Linked DNA regions of Homo sapiens: region 1 is linked to region 2. The links come from fine-mapping of genetic effects on gene expression. Tissue or cell type: whole blood. Region 2 holds a variant in brackets; the other region holds the start of a gene. All regions are shown on one strand. Distances are between the middles of the regions.

Region 1 (8,440 bases), 37 kb after region 2:
AAAAGCCAATAACACAAAAACCATTTGCCTGAGCGTTTCCATATGTGCTGAGGCTGTGCATATCCAACACTGATCAAAACCTAAACTTGGGCTCACTTATGTAAATAATCATTACTCATTTGATCTTCTCCCCCTCTTTAAATCTGCAGGTTCTTATTTATTCAACTTGCTTAACATTTAAAATTCCATCCTAGGACTCACTTGATTCATTTTTCTAAAAAGGATGAATAGAGAATCTGAAGTACAATTCAAAAAGATAAATACATCTATGTAGAGCAGTTACACTCCAGAGCAAAATCTGCATTCATCTCTGTCTGGTATCTACTAGAATTATTTGTTTTTGCAAGTTTCAGATGACCACATAACTCATCAGGGTGACAGAGCCACAAGTGAATTCTCTCTTCTATCAGAGAGTATCCTATCCAAAGGGTCAGGAAAAGGCTCTCCCTAACATTTTCCCTTCCACAACCAAGTAAATAGTCCCTGAATATGGTATCCGCTGCTTTTTTAAATATCAAAGTTTCAGAAAGAGGGAATGCCAGACGTGCAGAATCAGAATGCAAACGTACCGAAAGTATTCTCTCTTTCTCAAGATGTGTTGGGGGACAATCAGAGACTCGTCTTCCACCCGTAGGAAATCACTGGCTTGAATTTTAGGTATGGAGTGCTGCCTAACGGCTTTAGTGTGCTTGTGCTACACCTGAGTGCGTCAAAGCTTGGGGGGAAGGGAGGACAGCCCACCGAGCTGCGGTACCCCGCTCAGGCTAGAAGAGCGCTAGGTAAGGGGAACATCCAAAGGGACGCAATGAATTCAAAACCTCTCTTTCCCACCGAGATCTGCAGTCCTGGGGGTCGAAAGGCCCACCTCAAAGGAACCACTGGGTTATTAATTTGATCAGCCAGGCTGGCTCTTCAGGCTGGGGGAGGGGTGGGAATGGGAAGCCGCCATCCGTGCTCATGCGCACCCCAACACTCAAGCTTACCCCCAGACCCCTGGATTCTGCCCACTTTCCCTCTCATTTCACCTCAAAGTCAATGGAGTTAAAAATCAGTCTCTTTCCCCTACTTTTCCCGGGGAGTCTGAATTCCTGGGGTCTGTTAATGATTTTAAAATGTAGAGCCTTCCCTGGGTCGCTCCCGCCTGGAGTTCCCGCCCCCTTCCCTCCTCTCCTCTCCCCACCGCCAACCCCCACCGCAACCATTCTCTTCTCTCTGTCCCTAGAGAAAAGCCCGCTACATCCATTTGGATTTATGTAAGGTGGATTAGGGACACAAAGGAAACAATAAGACCCAATTTACAAAAAAAGGAGGGAGTAGAAAGGGAGGGTAAAAGAGAGAAAAGGAAACGTGATGGGAATAGAAAGCAACAAAGTGAATTAATTTTTAAGGGGGAGGTGGGGGAGGGGAGGGGAACAGACCTCCCTCCCTCCCCTTCAACATTAGCCTAGGGCTCTCAGAGCCTTTTTGTCTTGGGCTCCCAAGTTTTTCTCCCCCCCCCCCAAAAAAAGAGGGGGTTTAAAAAAAAGAAAGAAAACAGTCTCTACATCTGGGGCGAGAGAGGTCTCAGGGGACGTCCTAACAAGTGTGTGAAGTGGCCAGGAGAACGCGGGATCCACGATTCCTCTCAGGGGAATGAATAACCCTAGGGACCGAGGGGCGGCGACGGCCGAGATGGCACCAGAACCACCAGAAGCCACGTCGGAAGGAGATGGGAGATCCAGAGGGCGAGAGAGGGCCCCTTTCCTCCCAAGCGATGTCTGTGGGCAGGTGTATAAATCTCTCAGAGCCTCCGTCTGGAGGGCTCCGGGTACCGGCTGCCCAGCCAAGGCTAAGTTGGTTTTTGGCTCCCTCCTTCGGAACAGAGAAAACGATAGATTACACAGGGATGGATGGACGGATGTCTGGAGAGATGGAAAGATGAATGGATGGATGGATGGGTGGATGGATGGATAGATGAATGGGTGGATGGATGGAGGGATGGATGGACGGACGGACGGACAGATATATGGATGGATGCATTATGGATGGATGCATGGACGGACGGACGGATGCACGGAGAGATGGATGGATGCATGGATGGATAGATAGACGGATGGACGGACGGATAGATAGATGGATGCCGGAAAGGAGAAGAATGAGAGACGGATGTGAGACTAGATGCACGCAGGCCAGAGCACCAGCATACGCTGGAACAGAGCACGAGCATACACTCGAACACACGCGCACACACTCAGGACATCTGCGCACAGACATACAATCCTCCGCGTCCGCTTCCACGCAGGCATTCGCGCACCTACATACACGCAGTTGCACGCGCGCGCACACACACAGGCACACACACGCAGACATGCACACACACGCAGACATGCACACACACCACACATGCAGACATGCACACACACGCAGACATGCACACACACACCACACATACACACACACACACACACAGTTCGCCTCTCCCTGGGTTTCTCAGAAACTAAATGATCACCGCCCCCCCGCCCCGCCCCACCTCCCGACACAGACACACAGGCACATACAATCCTCCCAGCACGTCCGAACGGATGCACAGAAAACTGAGCACCCAGACGGGTCCCGTCGACCCCGCACGTTAGCTCTAAACTGTGTGCAATTCTGGGGCGAAAAGCTAAAACTCGACTGCGTTCAACTTGCCGGCGGGTTCCCCAAGTCTGCGGGGCGAAGAGCTCGGGCCCCTCAGGCCCGCAATCGCACCCTCGGGGCGCTGGGCTTGGCGAGGAGAAAGGTGTCTGACTCCGGGTGCTAGAAATCAGGTCACTGGCGCCTGACGAGCGGCGCCACGACCGCTGCGCTGCGGAGCAGGCCCCGCAGCCCGGTCCCGAGAAGCGCAGGGCTCGGGAAACTTTGCAGAAACCAGAGCTCGAAAGGCTTTCGCTAGAATCCGGGAGCACCAAGCCTTCACTGTGCTCCAGGCTGCGTTTTCCCCTCGCCCCGGGCTGGCTCAGGAGAGGACGTGGTTCTTGTAATTTTTTTTTTAAATCCCGGCGTTGTCTCCCGTGCATCCCCTCAGGGCGCCTCGAGCGGGCCTCTCTGGCGGATGCTGATAAACTTTGGCCTTTGGTTACAAACTTGGACAGACCCGCCGCGTGCACGGGTCACCGCCTCGGGGCAGGCTGTCCGGCGGTTCCCCGCTGCCCCTTCGCCGATCCCCTCGCCTCAGCCCCCTTCTCCCGAATCGGGACGCACCATTCACACTGGGCTCCCCCCGCACCACCTGGCCCTGCGCTCCTGAGGACCCCTCACCCGCGATGGCCCCTCGCTGTCCCCGACCACAGAAAGGCCGTCCCGCTCTTACCTTCATTCGCGGGGTATACCCTGGAACCTGTGACAGCGTCGCAAATCCCGAAGAGACACGAAAATAGGGCGAAATAGAAAATCCCAGCCATGGTTCGCCGGTGCCAACGCTGCTCCTGCCGCTTCTATCCCAGTGGAATAAATGCTTAAGTTAGGAGAGCAGCGGGCTGAAGACATTGCCAAGGGGGCGGGCCCGGCCGGTGACGTGAGCCCGCCAGTCCGGGGCCCGCGGCCAATGGCGGCGCAGACAGGGCGGCCGAGCCCCGCCTTCACCGAGCAGGGCCCGCCCCAGGGTTCCGCCCCCTCCGGGCTCCACGGGGCGCGCGGTCTCCCGGGGCTCTAGGGGGCGAGCACGGCCGGTCCCCGCCCCCGCCTGCCGGAGGGAGCCAGCGGGATCCCCCACGTTACCTCGAAGGTCGAGCCCCTGGACGGCGGAGGGACTTTGGAAAAGCTCGGAATTGACCGAGGGGAGCCAGAGAAGAGGTTGGAAACCTTTTCTCCCACCACGGGCGGTTTAAGATGGAGGAAAACGCTCTTTTATTGAAATAAAAGAAGTCTAAGCTGACCTGCGGTTGCTTCTTTAGGAGAGTCGACGTGTCTGCGTCCAGCGCGCCCGGGCTGAGCTGCAGACTCGCGCCTGCCACCGCCACCCTCTGCCACCTTGCCCTGTTTTGTCTTTATGGCGCTTCCCCCTCTGAAATACTCTTTGCGGGGAGTTTTGTGGCTCTATCACTCGCTTCTTCCCTGGCTCCCCAGATGCCTGGAGAGCGGGGACCTACTTGGTCCCCAACGTCCAGTCCGCAGCAGGGCTCCGTCACTGTCTCCAGAGACTGAACGAATGACTTTCTAGCAGTAAGGAAGTCCCCGCTGGCCCCGTCCCCCTGCACACGCCGTGGACCTCGCCCAGGGCCCAGGACGCCCCGAGATGGCCTTGGGCAGGGAACCAGTTGTGGATTTCCCGGGGGCAGGGTTGGGGGCAGTCCCTGGAACCGGGCCTAGCCCGTCTGGGAGCGGTGGGGTAGAAGTGAAAGGCTTAAGTGTGGGTGCGGGGACTTGCAGCCGCACAGACAAGGCAGACCGGGACTGGGAAGCTGCCCGGAGCGGCTGCTGCGACTCTCCGCTCCGACCTAGCCGGGGCAGCCCTCCCTGCCCCGGGAGAAGACGGCGAGCAGGAGGACCCGCAGAGCCCCGCCCGGCTGCTCCGGCCCCGGGGGCACTGGCACCATCGGGCTGTGGTCTTTTCCCGATGCCCGAGCCGTGGACGCGGCCACCTAAGAGCGGTCCGGCGAAGGCAGCGCAGCCGGTGTCCCAGGGACCGGTCCCCAACGCCACTCGGTGCATTTCCCCAGGCGCTGGCAGGGGCACTGATTCCTAGCAATGAGGCCTCCCTTCCCCTTCCCAGGCCGCCCCTCCTCTGACTCCCTCCAGAGCAGGGCCGAGTTTTCCTGGGGAGCCTGGGTCCCGGCGGCCGGGCGGCCGCTGGGAGGTGGAGGAGCCTCTCCAGCCCCGGCCGCAGCTCATCGTGAGCCAACCGCGCCACCTGCCGGCCAGATGCGGGAGTGTGCGGCCCCGGAGGAAGGGCGAGCGGACAAAGACCGCAACCCGCAATCCGCAACCCCGCAGAGAGGTGGTGCGTGCGTTTGGGCGAGCTTTTCAGCCACCGCCAAGTCTCGTGCACTAGGGCTACTCCTACCGTGGGGCTGCGGACAGCGCTCAAGAGGTCCTGGAGTCTGTCGTGACTCTCGCCTGCTGGATTTCAAAAGATGGAATCGGAAAGCGTTTCAAGGAGAAACTCCTAACAAACCTTCCGGGGGTTGCCTGAGTGGCTGCTCTCGGAAAAGCGGATCCTAAATAAAGCGGGAGGGTTATAGGGCGACGTCGAGGAGAGGACAGGTCTCGAGTCACTGCTACAGTTTCAGGTCACTGGGCTCCGCAGCAGATCGTGTTTTCTCCCGTGGCTCGAGAGCTGCGCTGGTTTCTCATGCAAACTCAGAGCCGAGCTAATGACATGAGCAACTTTTACTTTTACACAAGATGAGCACGCGTGCCGAGGCGCTGGGCGGCGGCTGTGTGAGTTGGTGGCCCAGACGAACAGCTTGTGCGAGACTCTGGGCATTTCGGTTTCTAGATACAAGATTTGCTTAAATGTCACAGTCCAAAGAAGTGGATTTCAGTCATTGTAGCTACTGATTGCACACAAGTAAAAAGGGAAAAAATATGTACTCGGGGGATATATGTATGTGTGTGTGCGTGCATAAATTATTTAAAATAACTGCACTAAATCCCTTTAAGAAATGCATTTCTGGGTTCTTTCATGTGTCTTTCTGAGTTTTACAGAAAAAGAAGACGAATATTGGTCCCTGTCATTTGGCACACAGATTCAAAAGAGAAAAGAGCAATCCGAATTCTTTTTGAAACCTTTTTAAACAATAGATGCTGGCTGCCTCTCTGCAGGATCTTGAGTGTTGCATGTATCTATCTGTGTTTGAAACGGGAAACTGACTGCCTGCATTGTTATAAACAGTAAAATTTCTAAAACATGTACCATTTTTTTCCCCAGGATATGCACATTGAATATTAAACAAAGTCTTTCCAGACACAGCTGCCTGAAAGCAAGGCATCATTTGCTAGAGTACATTCACTGACTTTCCCTTTTTTCTTCCTATGTTTTAGTTCAGGACCCAAGGCAGCCCGATAATCAGGAGAACCAAGAAGCAGGAAATGCTAACTTGGAAAAACTGAACTATAACTTCCTCTTTAAATCATTTCTGGGTTGCAGAACAGAAATGAGCTGCTGAAAATTCCTCTGTCCATTGTGACTACCTAGAACAAAGGTGTTCTAACCTAGCAGATATGATTCCTTGAAGAGTAAGGCAAAATTTTAAAAATGATGGTGGACAAAGGCCACCATCAATGCAGAAAACCACCCACATTATGGGAAGACAACCTGGAGTTTTCAAATGTTGGAGACTGTTTACAACACATCAACGGAGTCATAAGGATACAATGGAATATCATACCTTTAAAAAAGTACCTAAAATCACCTAATTTTAAAATAAAATTGCTTTACTCTTGAGTAAGACAAGTCTTACTACAGTAAAAATTTGGGGTTATTTTGAATACACTAAGAAACATGTCAAAACATATCTGCTTACACACTTAATGAAAATAGTAATTGAATAATCTGAAAACAATGATATACTTTTTTTTATACAGTGCCTACCACAAACGTTTGAGCTACGAAGTACCTTGTAAATGCTGAATTGAATTAAGATTGAATTCCAAAGGTGTTTTTAATCCGTAAAAGACGTTTGTAAATAGCACCAAGCATCCCGGGGTTTCCACCTGTATGTGGAGGGCCAATTTCACCAAAGTAAAGAGAAAGGAGCCTTTGACCCGTAGACAAATAATGATAAGGAGGGTGTATGAAAGACTGGAGAGACAGAGAGAATAAGAAGATGAATCCACTCTGCTTTTTCTAGGCATCCTGGTGGATTTTTTGTGAAAAAAATGGAACCTGCCCATAGTGCTCCAATGACTCCCTGAGTTCTCTTTTAGAGAACCAGAACTTTCAATTCAGACAACCCCAATTTGATACTTTAGCTGGGCTTTTTCTAGCTGTGTGTCTTTAAGTTCCTTGACCTCTCTGAGATATGGTTTTCTCATCTACAAATTGTAGATAGTTAACATTATATGGTTCTTCTAAATACTGAATGAATGTTATAGAGCTTCTGGTATAGTACCTGGCGTGTGTTAGCCAGCTGTTATTACTCATTTTTATTTTTATTTTTATTTTATGAGACAGGGTCTCACTCAGGTCACCCAGGCTGGATTGCAGTGGTGTGATCATGGCTCACCACAGCCTCACCCTCCCCAGGCTCACGTGATACTCTCACCTCAGCCTCCTGGATACCTAGAACTACAGATGTGTGCCACCACACCTGGCTAATTTTTTGTATTTTTAGTAAAGATGGGGTTTCACCATGTTGCCCAGGCTGGTCTCAAAATCCTGGGCTCAAGCAATCCTCCTGCCTCATCCTCCTAAAATGCTGGGATTATAGTCATGAGCCACCATGCCTGGCTATTGTTTCTGTAAAATAATATTTAATTAATAAGCATTCACATTTTGAAATGAGAAATCATTTGTTCAGCTTGAATTGTTCCTTCCAGAAGGAAACCAAGCACTGTGATTTACCTTTCGTGCTCCATGAGAAAATAAGATGCTTTATTTTATTAACTCCTAGAGTAGGGAAGGGAAATAAATTCTAAATTCTTCTCTTCTTTTATTGTTGATTTATGACAGCTGACATCCAACTTTTATATTCCTAGGTAATTCCACTGGATTTGGACCTAGAGGCTATGCTTGTCTTCAAATAGAATAGTGTAAAAAATACGTGAAAGAAGGTGTGAGGAATCCAGAGTCCCACAACCAAGTGGTAATGAATAACCAAAGCTCTACCTAATGAAATTCCCACCGTTGTTAGAAAACGCTTCTACCACAAGCTACTGCATCTTAAATATACAAATTTGACACAACAATTGGTGGGCTTCCGGAAGCCCCCAGGAAACCTAACTGCAGAGTTCATCCTTTGATGTCAAGGCTTTGATGCTGTTTGTTATGCAAATAAGAAGCAGGACACTTATGAGCCCTTTACACCTGAGTGGGAAAAAAAATGGCTGCAGAGCTCAGGTCTTCATGCATCAAGAGGATGAGAGAGCAAGACAAAGCAAGAGGCCTTTTTTTGTTTGTTTGTTTCATTTTTTTAATAAGTTGTTGGGGTATAGGTGGTATTTAGCTACATGAGTAAGTTCTTCAGTGGAGATTTGTGAGATCGTGGTGCCCCCATCACCCGAGCAGTATACATTGCACCGTATTTGTTGTCTTTTATCCTTTGCCCCCTCCCATCTTCCCCCCAAGTCCCCAAAGTCCACTGTATTATTCTTATGCCTTTGCATCCTCATAGCTTAGTTCCCACATATCAGTGAGAACTTAGGATGTTTGGTGTTCCATTCCTGAGTTACTTCACTTAGAATAATAATCTCTTTTGCATCACTGAGGTGAGGAGGGGCAGACAGGAAGGTTGCAGTTCTCAAGGGAGCAAGGCTTTTC
Region 2 (8,000 bases):
GGAGTAGCCAGTGCTCTTTCAAAGGAGAGCTCACTGAGACAAACCAAATATGCTGGGATGTTTGAAAAGGGGAATTTCAAACACCAGGCAATTGTCACACAGATATTTCAATTTATTCTTTTTTTTTTTTTTGAGACAGGGTCTCACTCTGTCGCCCAGGCTGGAGTGCAGTGGCATGATCTTGGCTCACTGCAAGCTCTGCCTCCAGGGTTCAAGCAATTCTCCTGCCTCAGCCTCCAGAGTAGCTGGGATTATAGGCACGTGCTGCCATGCGTGGCTAATTTTTGTATTTTTAGTAGAGACGGGGTTTCACCATAATGGCCAGACTGGTCTAAAACTCCTGAACTCAGGTAATCTGACTGCCTTAGCCTCCCAAACTGCTGGGATGACAGGTGTGAGCCACTGTGCCCAGCCAGATAGTTCAATTTATTCTATCAAAAGATGAGAAAAACTCAGATCAGTTGAGATTTAACATTCTAGTTCTGATTACTGGCCATTTTAATTTGCTAAGCAGGCACATGAATTAACCAAATTCCTAGTCATCACAAGGGCAGATATTAACTTTTAGTTCCTACTTAAGGAACCAACATTTTAGAACCCAGAAGACCAGAGTGAAAGTCAATGCAGTCATGCCAAAATTGTCTGTTATAGATCCACACAGCCTTGGCCGGGCCAGGGGCTGCATTCTGCCACCTGGGCACCTTGTCTGTAGCTGGTGCCTTAGGCTTGGCCTCCTAAGGGGTGCACACCACTCAGTTCCTGGATGCCTACTGGAAGGAGCTGTTTGACACGGCCAACACCCACCACTTCTCACATAGCCTAGCCCTTCTGAGGGGGCTCCATTGCAGAAGCCCTCTGGGCCAGGTGACTGTTTGCCTCTGAAACCACCTTATTCTCAGCAGTTTTACTACCAGGCTCTGAGTGAAGACTGCAATTGGCAGACTTGGCCTTCTGTAGGGGGAGTCGGCCACTCTTGGGCAGACTTGCCTTGGCTCTTTGAACTCACTTGTGTTTAATCACTGGCTTTTGGGGGTGATTTGTTTAGTTGGAACAGGGAGATGATTAAAAGAGAAAGGTAAATAAAGAACAACAACAATGAAAAATTGCCAGTTACATTTCATCTGAGCCATACATATGGCCTTGGCATAAAAATGATGGGAAAGTTACATTGAACAATGTACATGCATTATAATAAACCCAGTATGTATCCTACCATCAGGCAGCCCCATAGCTCCAAAAACTTTTTTGTTGTTGTTGATCAAAATGTGTTACAGCCTACCATAAATACAATCTGTCCTCTTTAATCTGGTTTCTCTATTTCTGTTTGTGGACCTTTGCTAATATTTGAATGAGAAAACAGAGGCAGAGGCAGTAACTGCCCTCACCCCTGCCCCCGTATGTATCAATAAAGGATGCAGATGCGCTATTCACTGAGATGGCTGATGACTCGGAGGGAGGAGGAAGCTGATATGTTCCAAGCAGAATTTCAAAGGTGTGTCCCTGAAAGAAAAATGTTGAAACATGGGTCTACACCCATCTGTGTGACTCCTAAAGTCAATACAGCTTCTAAACACACAGATTACAGCACGCTGAACGAGTTCCAGTCTATGGAGTTTCAAAACATATATAATAATGATGGTACCGGGGGCTGTGCCTCCTCCAGGGAAATTGTTCTGATTTCAAAAGCATCCTGACTGTTAATTTTGTGACTAGTGTCAAAAAAAAAAAAAAAAAAAAAAAAAAAGCCTGTGAGGGTAGGATTCAGATTATAAAGATCAGAGAGAGAATCTCTCCCTTATGAAAATCCAAACAACCTTCTCCAGGGCTATCCCCACTGTCACTTCTGGATACCATTGACAGGCAGACTCTTTGCCACCTTGGGTGCATACTGGAAGAGCCAGCAGCGCCCTACCAGAAGAGTTCTGGGCAAAAGATCCTTGTGAGTTACCTTTTCCCACATCTGCGTGACACTCCATGTGCTTCACACTTAAGGAAATAAAATATACATATAAGAACAGCCCTAGGTAATTATCCACTGATAATTCATATTTAATCTGTTGAATCTAGGTAGGCAGGGACTCAATTTCAAAAATCATGCCAACTACTTCTCTTGAAGGATAACAGATGAGATTTTTAACTGATGTCTTTATAAGGATTCCCAAAAGAATGATTTAAGAATGGCCTGCAAGTAGCATAAAGCATATCTTGTTTACTAAAAAATGAATTTGTGCAAAAACATGCCTGTAATTAGTAAATCATTGGTGTTCCACTTACCCATAAGTGGCTCTGGGAAATTTCTCTGCTCTGTTTCTGCCCTGGATTCTATTTTGATCTGTGGATCTTCTTGGCTAATCCATATCCAGTACTGCCCTAAATAGGTTTTTCTTGTATTGGAATGCGTTCTCATTACCTGCAAGTGCTCCAAGTTCTAACACAGGCACCTAGAAAAGGTCTCACCCCCTCAGATGAAAAACTGCATCTTGCACATGCTGGTAAATGCCTAAATTGGCCTTCTTCCCTGGCCTGGCTACAGTGGCTGTGGTTGTGTGAACTTCCCTACCTTTTAGAAGAAAGAGAATAAGCAACTTCCAGGCTGTGACTATCCCTGGAACCCATGGTCAATTTGTTAGCTCTGTCTAAAAGTCTCAATAGTCAATAACTTTTTGATTGGTTCTTCTTTGTTCTACTAGGGCTGTCACATTTAGCTGAAAATTTAATTTTATGCCCATAATCAAACTCAATAGCCTTTCAGTTCTGTGTAGTTGTACTTCCAGTTGCTTTTCCACCTCAAGAAACAGTTTCTGGGGGAAAAAAGGTAAATAACTCAACTCTTTCCAGTCGACAGAGGTGCTCTTCACTTGAGCATCTACATGATTTAACTTTTTTGTTGACCAGAAAGCATATATTCACAGCATCCAATCTAAGCATATGTGCTATACTGGCTAATTTCTAGCTGTCTGGGATTAACTTCATCGGCAATTCGGGGTGCAGCTTCTGCACGTTCTCCATCGCTATTGGATCCACAGACCTTTTCAATCTTATCCAGTTAAAAAGAAATAAGCAGCACTATTCTCTCTCTTGGATCTTTTACTTAGCAAGGGAACCTGGAAATCACTTTCAACTGGGTGTCATCCAGAGTCAGCCTTAGTGGTGTGGGCAATACACAAGTTTACCTGTGGCTTCCAAAATGCTGTTCCTCAACCTAAATTAATCAGAACCACCTAGGAGCTTGTGAAAAATTCAGATCACAGACTCCAAACTCTAAAGTCTTGAGGATTGATGTTAAAAGTGTACATTTGTAATCAGTACCTCAAATGATTCTAAGGTATAAACTCATTTTTGCAACCACTAGGGTTCATCATCAGACAGAAAAGCTCAGAAAGCACTTACCTTCCACTAAGTTATCTTATGCCATTCTTACAGCTACTAAAAGTAACAACCATATATTGACTTTCTAGAACAGTCCCAAATCCCAAATCTAAATAAACATTATCGTCTTTTGTCCAATGCCCTAAACCACCTATCTACAAAGCAATAAAGCATCAATTATGCCAAATCAAAGGCACTTCTTTTTTTCTGTTTTTTTTCCTCTTCAAACAACGGATTTGTTATTTTCTCCTTTTGTTCAAATAAAGACAATCATCCTTTAAATATAACCTGCAAGTCAACTTTACTGTGAGGCTTTTCTTATCTTCTTCTTCTATGCCTAAAGTGGTAGAACAAAGATTTTTTGGTAAACATTACAAATCTTCATATCAAGGGCACATTCCCTTTGGTTGGATGAAATATCTTTCCCAACTCCAGTAGGGAAAGAATCTTACATGATCAATGGCTCTCAATGGCTGGAAGATAGATGGCAATCAAGAAATATCTGATGAACGAGCCAGGGGTAGAGACCAAACTCTTCCTCTGCTCTTCAAAAATCTTTCAAAACTCAGCTCCACCTACCTACCCAGTCTCTTCAACCCCAGGGTGTGGCAGCTAACTCCTGTTCTTGGCTCAAGGGATATTCATTCCTCTTTTACCAGCTTTATTTAACTACAGTTTACCAAGTTCCTATTCTTGGAAGCCTTTCTAGATAACTGTCAACAAAGATAGTCCTTCTTATCTTTGGCAAAAGAGCACTTTATCTTATCACTCATTTTGACACTTAAGAGCTACCGGGCACCCTGTGGATGACCTTGTCCAGTTAGCTATTTTCTAGATGAGGAAACTAATGTGGCAGCCTAAGGAACTTGTCCATGATCAGATCAGATAATTATTCAGAATAAAAATTAGAAACAGTCTCCCACCCTCTTGTATTGTATTCCTCTAAAGATTATAAGCCTTTTGGAAATGTGGGCTTTAAATGAGAAATGGTTTTTAATCCCTGTACTAGAATGCGAACCTGCTCACTGAAGGCTGCCCTCCAGATTACCGGCCTTACGATGCTCTGCACTAGACCCTGGCATTCTTGAAAGATGTTTCCCCAAATCCTCATTAATTCCCAATAATTAAGCCCTAACCCCCAATGTGATTACATTTGGAGACAGAGGC[C/T]ATAAGGAGGTAATAATAAGTCCATGCTTCATCCATGAAGTCATTCTTCAGAAAATCCCTCTAAACAATGTACTTTGGTCAATTCCCTTGTCTCTCAAAGGGGGTTATTATATACCCAGTTTAGAATGATTGAAACATAATGTGAGAATATGACCAAATCAGGACAACAAAGATGTGCTGAAAAGCAGCCCAGATTTGTAGTTAAGGGTGAAGGCTTGGTCAGTGGCCAGACTTTGCAGGTTGAATCCAGACTCCTCACCTATTAGCTGTGTGACTTTGGGCAAGCTGCTTAGCTTCTCTGGGCTTTAGTTTCCTCATCTATGAAAAGAGGATAATGACAGTCACTATTTCACCAAGTCATGGTGACACAATGAAATACTGAAAATAAAGTGCTTAGCACAAAGCCAAGTTCTCATCAGGTAAATACATAGCGACCTTAACATAAATTATTTTAAATTAATGCCATAAAGGCTAAAACAAAGAGAGAGAGAGAAATCTCTATGCCGTGGGACTTTGAATGCATTTGTGAACTGTTGCATTTAATCCATTCATTCATTCCTTTCAATAACAACTGTGTGTCAGGCTCAGTTTTAGGCTCTGAGAGTCCTGCAAAAAACAAGCAAGGCCCAAAAAACAAAGCCTTCTCTCATGGAAGTAGCATTGTAATTGACAGCTAAATCCAAGGATGCTGGAGATCTTCCACATTCTTCTTCCACTTATGTTCTCAGTGCTCCAAATACTTCTCTTGAAAGTACACTCAAAGCAATTTAAAAGTCACTCCTAAAAATAGTCTGTTACTTTGCAATCACTCATTGTTCTTGAGTAAAACCCAATATTACCCAGTATGGCTGATCTCATTTATCAATAGCCTGGTCAGTGAATTATTTGATTTCCAAAAATTAAATCCACCTTAAGGGACAAAATTGTTCAGAACTAAGCACATTTAAAAAGAAGGCCCCAGGCCTGGCACAGTGGCTCACATCTGTAATGCAAGTACTTTGGGAGGCCAAGGAGGTGAACAGTGCTTGAAGCCAGGAGTTTAGGACTAGCCAGGGCCACAAAATAAGACCACTCATCTCTACAAAAAATTAAAAATTTAGCAAGGTGCAGTGGTGCACACCTGTAGCCCTAGCTACTCAGGAGGCTGAGGCCGGAGGATCATTTGAACCTAAGAGTTGGAGGCTGCAATGAGCTATGATGGTGCCATTGCACTCTAGCCTAGGCAATAGAGTGAGATTCCATCGAAAAGAAGAAGAAGAAAGAAGGAAGAAGAAAGACAAAGATGACGATGACGAAGAAGGAGGAGGAGGAGATTATCAATAAAAAGAAGGTCCCAGACATTTTGAAGAAGACAGTTCCAAAACATTTCCACAAAAGTTGTGGCAGCCTTACAGTTATCCAGACTATCTTTTTCAAGGATTCATTTGCATGAAAGTCTCTGTATTTGTTTGCTAAAAAAAAAGGGGGGGTTATACTTTAGAATTATACAGACTCTTTTGTGTAAGTATACTGCCCAGCAAAACTGACAGAGTGCTGAGTGTGTGGCAAAATGAGTAATTTATTGAATTGAACGAAGAGTCTAAAACGTAGTGGGATGAAACAGATGTATGAGTAGGGTTATAAGTCTTCTGTTATAGGACACAAATGAAAATCTCCTTAGGGATACTGCTCTACCTGTAATTTATTTCTACATTATTCTTGTGTGTAATATTATTTTTGGCATGTTAATGTATTGTCAATGAATTCCAATCTGGTGACATGACAAAAGTTGTATTTCATTTTGGAGTGTAAAAAATGTGAAAATCAATTGAATTATATATCAATGACATGCAATGAGAGTAACTAGTATATTCTGTGTAATGTCACTTTTCTGGAATGACTAGCAGCCTAGAGCTATTAGATTAATTGCTAGAGTTTTATTCTTACTATTATAGTCAGTTGGATTTGCTGAAGTGAGATAAAAACTCAAAGCTCTCTCTTTTTTTCTCCCCCAAAAGAAAGAGAATTTGCCAGAATCTGCATAATTTAGATTATTAACTTATTTTCTTGGCATTTGACTGAACCTGTAAGTTTATGCTGGCAAATAAAATAAGCACTGAAAGTTGAAGTCACTCTTTGATCTAGTAAATAAACCTGCAGAAAATTCAGACTCAATTACTCTTTAAATTTATGACATTTCTAGTATTGTGACAAATACTGCTTTCTCACTGAAAATACATGATGTATTCGGTGAGTATGCTTCAAAAATCAATGGGCTGCTTACAAATAAAACCATATTGACATTTTTACATTTTCCTTTTTACATTTGTTTCTTCGTTCATTTCAATGATCACACGTGGCGTGCAATGACTGAATAGGACTCTATGTACTGTATTGTTTTAGGTGCTATAGTGAATGCAAAGATAAATACAGACTTAGCCTGGGAAGTGCATAGATTCTGGTACAGAACTGCCATATATAGTTGTACAGGTTGTTCACTGAAAAAGAGTATCCAACTGAAGGGGAAAGTGGGGTCTAGAGCCCAGCCTACACTCCTTTTACCAAGTTCAAGGTCCTGACACAGGGCCATGACAATCCAGGAGTAGTAGCAGCAGTAGCAGGAGTAGGAGTAAGCGCTAATATTGATTGCAGGATTTCTGCGTCCCAGCCACGGTTCATGTGTGTTTCACGTATTTACTTATGACGACAAGCTGATGTTGTAGGAACTATTACTACTTGCATTTTATATATGAGAAAACCAAGTACAGAGAAAAATTATTAATTTGCCTGAAGTCAAATAGCTAATAAATGGCAGAACAATTACTCACTGAGTAATACTGTACTCTGTGCCCTAACAAGTCCGATAAGATGGCATTACACAGCATAAGTGACATGAAGGAACGCAATCAAAATGCTGGTGGGAGTTAGGAGAGAGAAGAAAAAAATGATGCTTCTGTAGAACCTTGTGGAATGTGCAAAATTGTGACCAGCAGGAGGGCCTTTGGGGCAGGGTAAATTGTGTAGAAAAAGGCACAGCAGCTAGATTCTTAGAATAGTGAAGGAGCTTTGAAGAAAGAGCTTGGAGACCTATCCTAAAATACAGCGTAAACTCCTCTCACCGACGTTAGAGCTTTGACACAGGGCCCCAGTAACGCGGAGTAGTCACGGGAGTAGTAGTGGTAGAAATAAGAGCTAATATTTAAAAGCCAATGGTGGTTTCAGAGTAGGAGTGATCACAGGATCAACACTCAGATTTAGGAAGACTTGTAATCCCCCAATACAATGAAGGCTGGAAGGGTGTGGAGGAGGGGAGCAGATAGAAGAAGAAAGATGTGTTGGTACACTCATTTATTGGCACTTGGCACTTGTGCATCTTTACAAGCCAGTTTTCTTTTTTCTTTTTGTTTTTTCTGAGATGGAGTCTCACTCTGTTGCCCAGGCTGGAGTGCAATATACCACGATCTCCACTCACTGCAACCTTTGCC

Evidence for each region. PIP is the estimated chance that this variant, and not a neighbour inherited with it, causes the effect.
Region 1: it holds the start of EPHA4, and the variant in region 2 is fine-mapped to the expression of EPHA4 in whole blood (INTERVAL, PIP 0.97).

Annotation. Positions count from the first base shown.
Region 1 is chr2:221,568,827-221,577,266 of GRCh38, forward strand. It overlaps EPHA4 (EPH receptor A4), which reads right to left and starts at 3,478. Exons shown (of 18, transcript NM_004438.5): 1 at 3,332-3,478. The coding sequence starts at 3,422. RefSeq lists silencers at 3,434-3,853, 4,454-4,733, 4,784-4,943 and an enhancer at 7,647-8,159.
Region 2 is chr2:221,532,009-221,540,008 of GRCh38, forward strand. All of the region lies in intron 3 of EPHA4 (EPH receptor A4), which reads right to left. It also overlaps the pseudogene TMEM256P2. Among named protein-coding and RNA genes, the nearest start is that of EPHA4, 36 kb to the right of the region's middle. The variant C/T (reference allele first, on the strand shown) is at 4,537.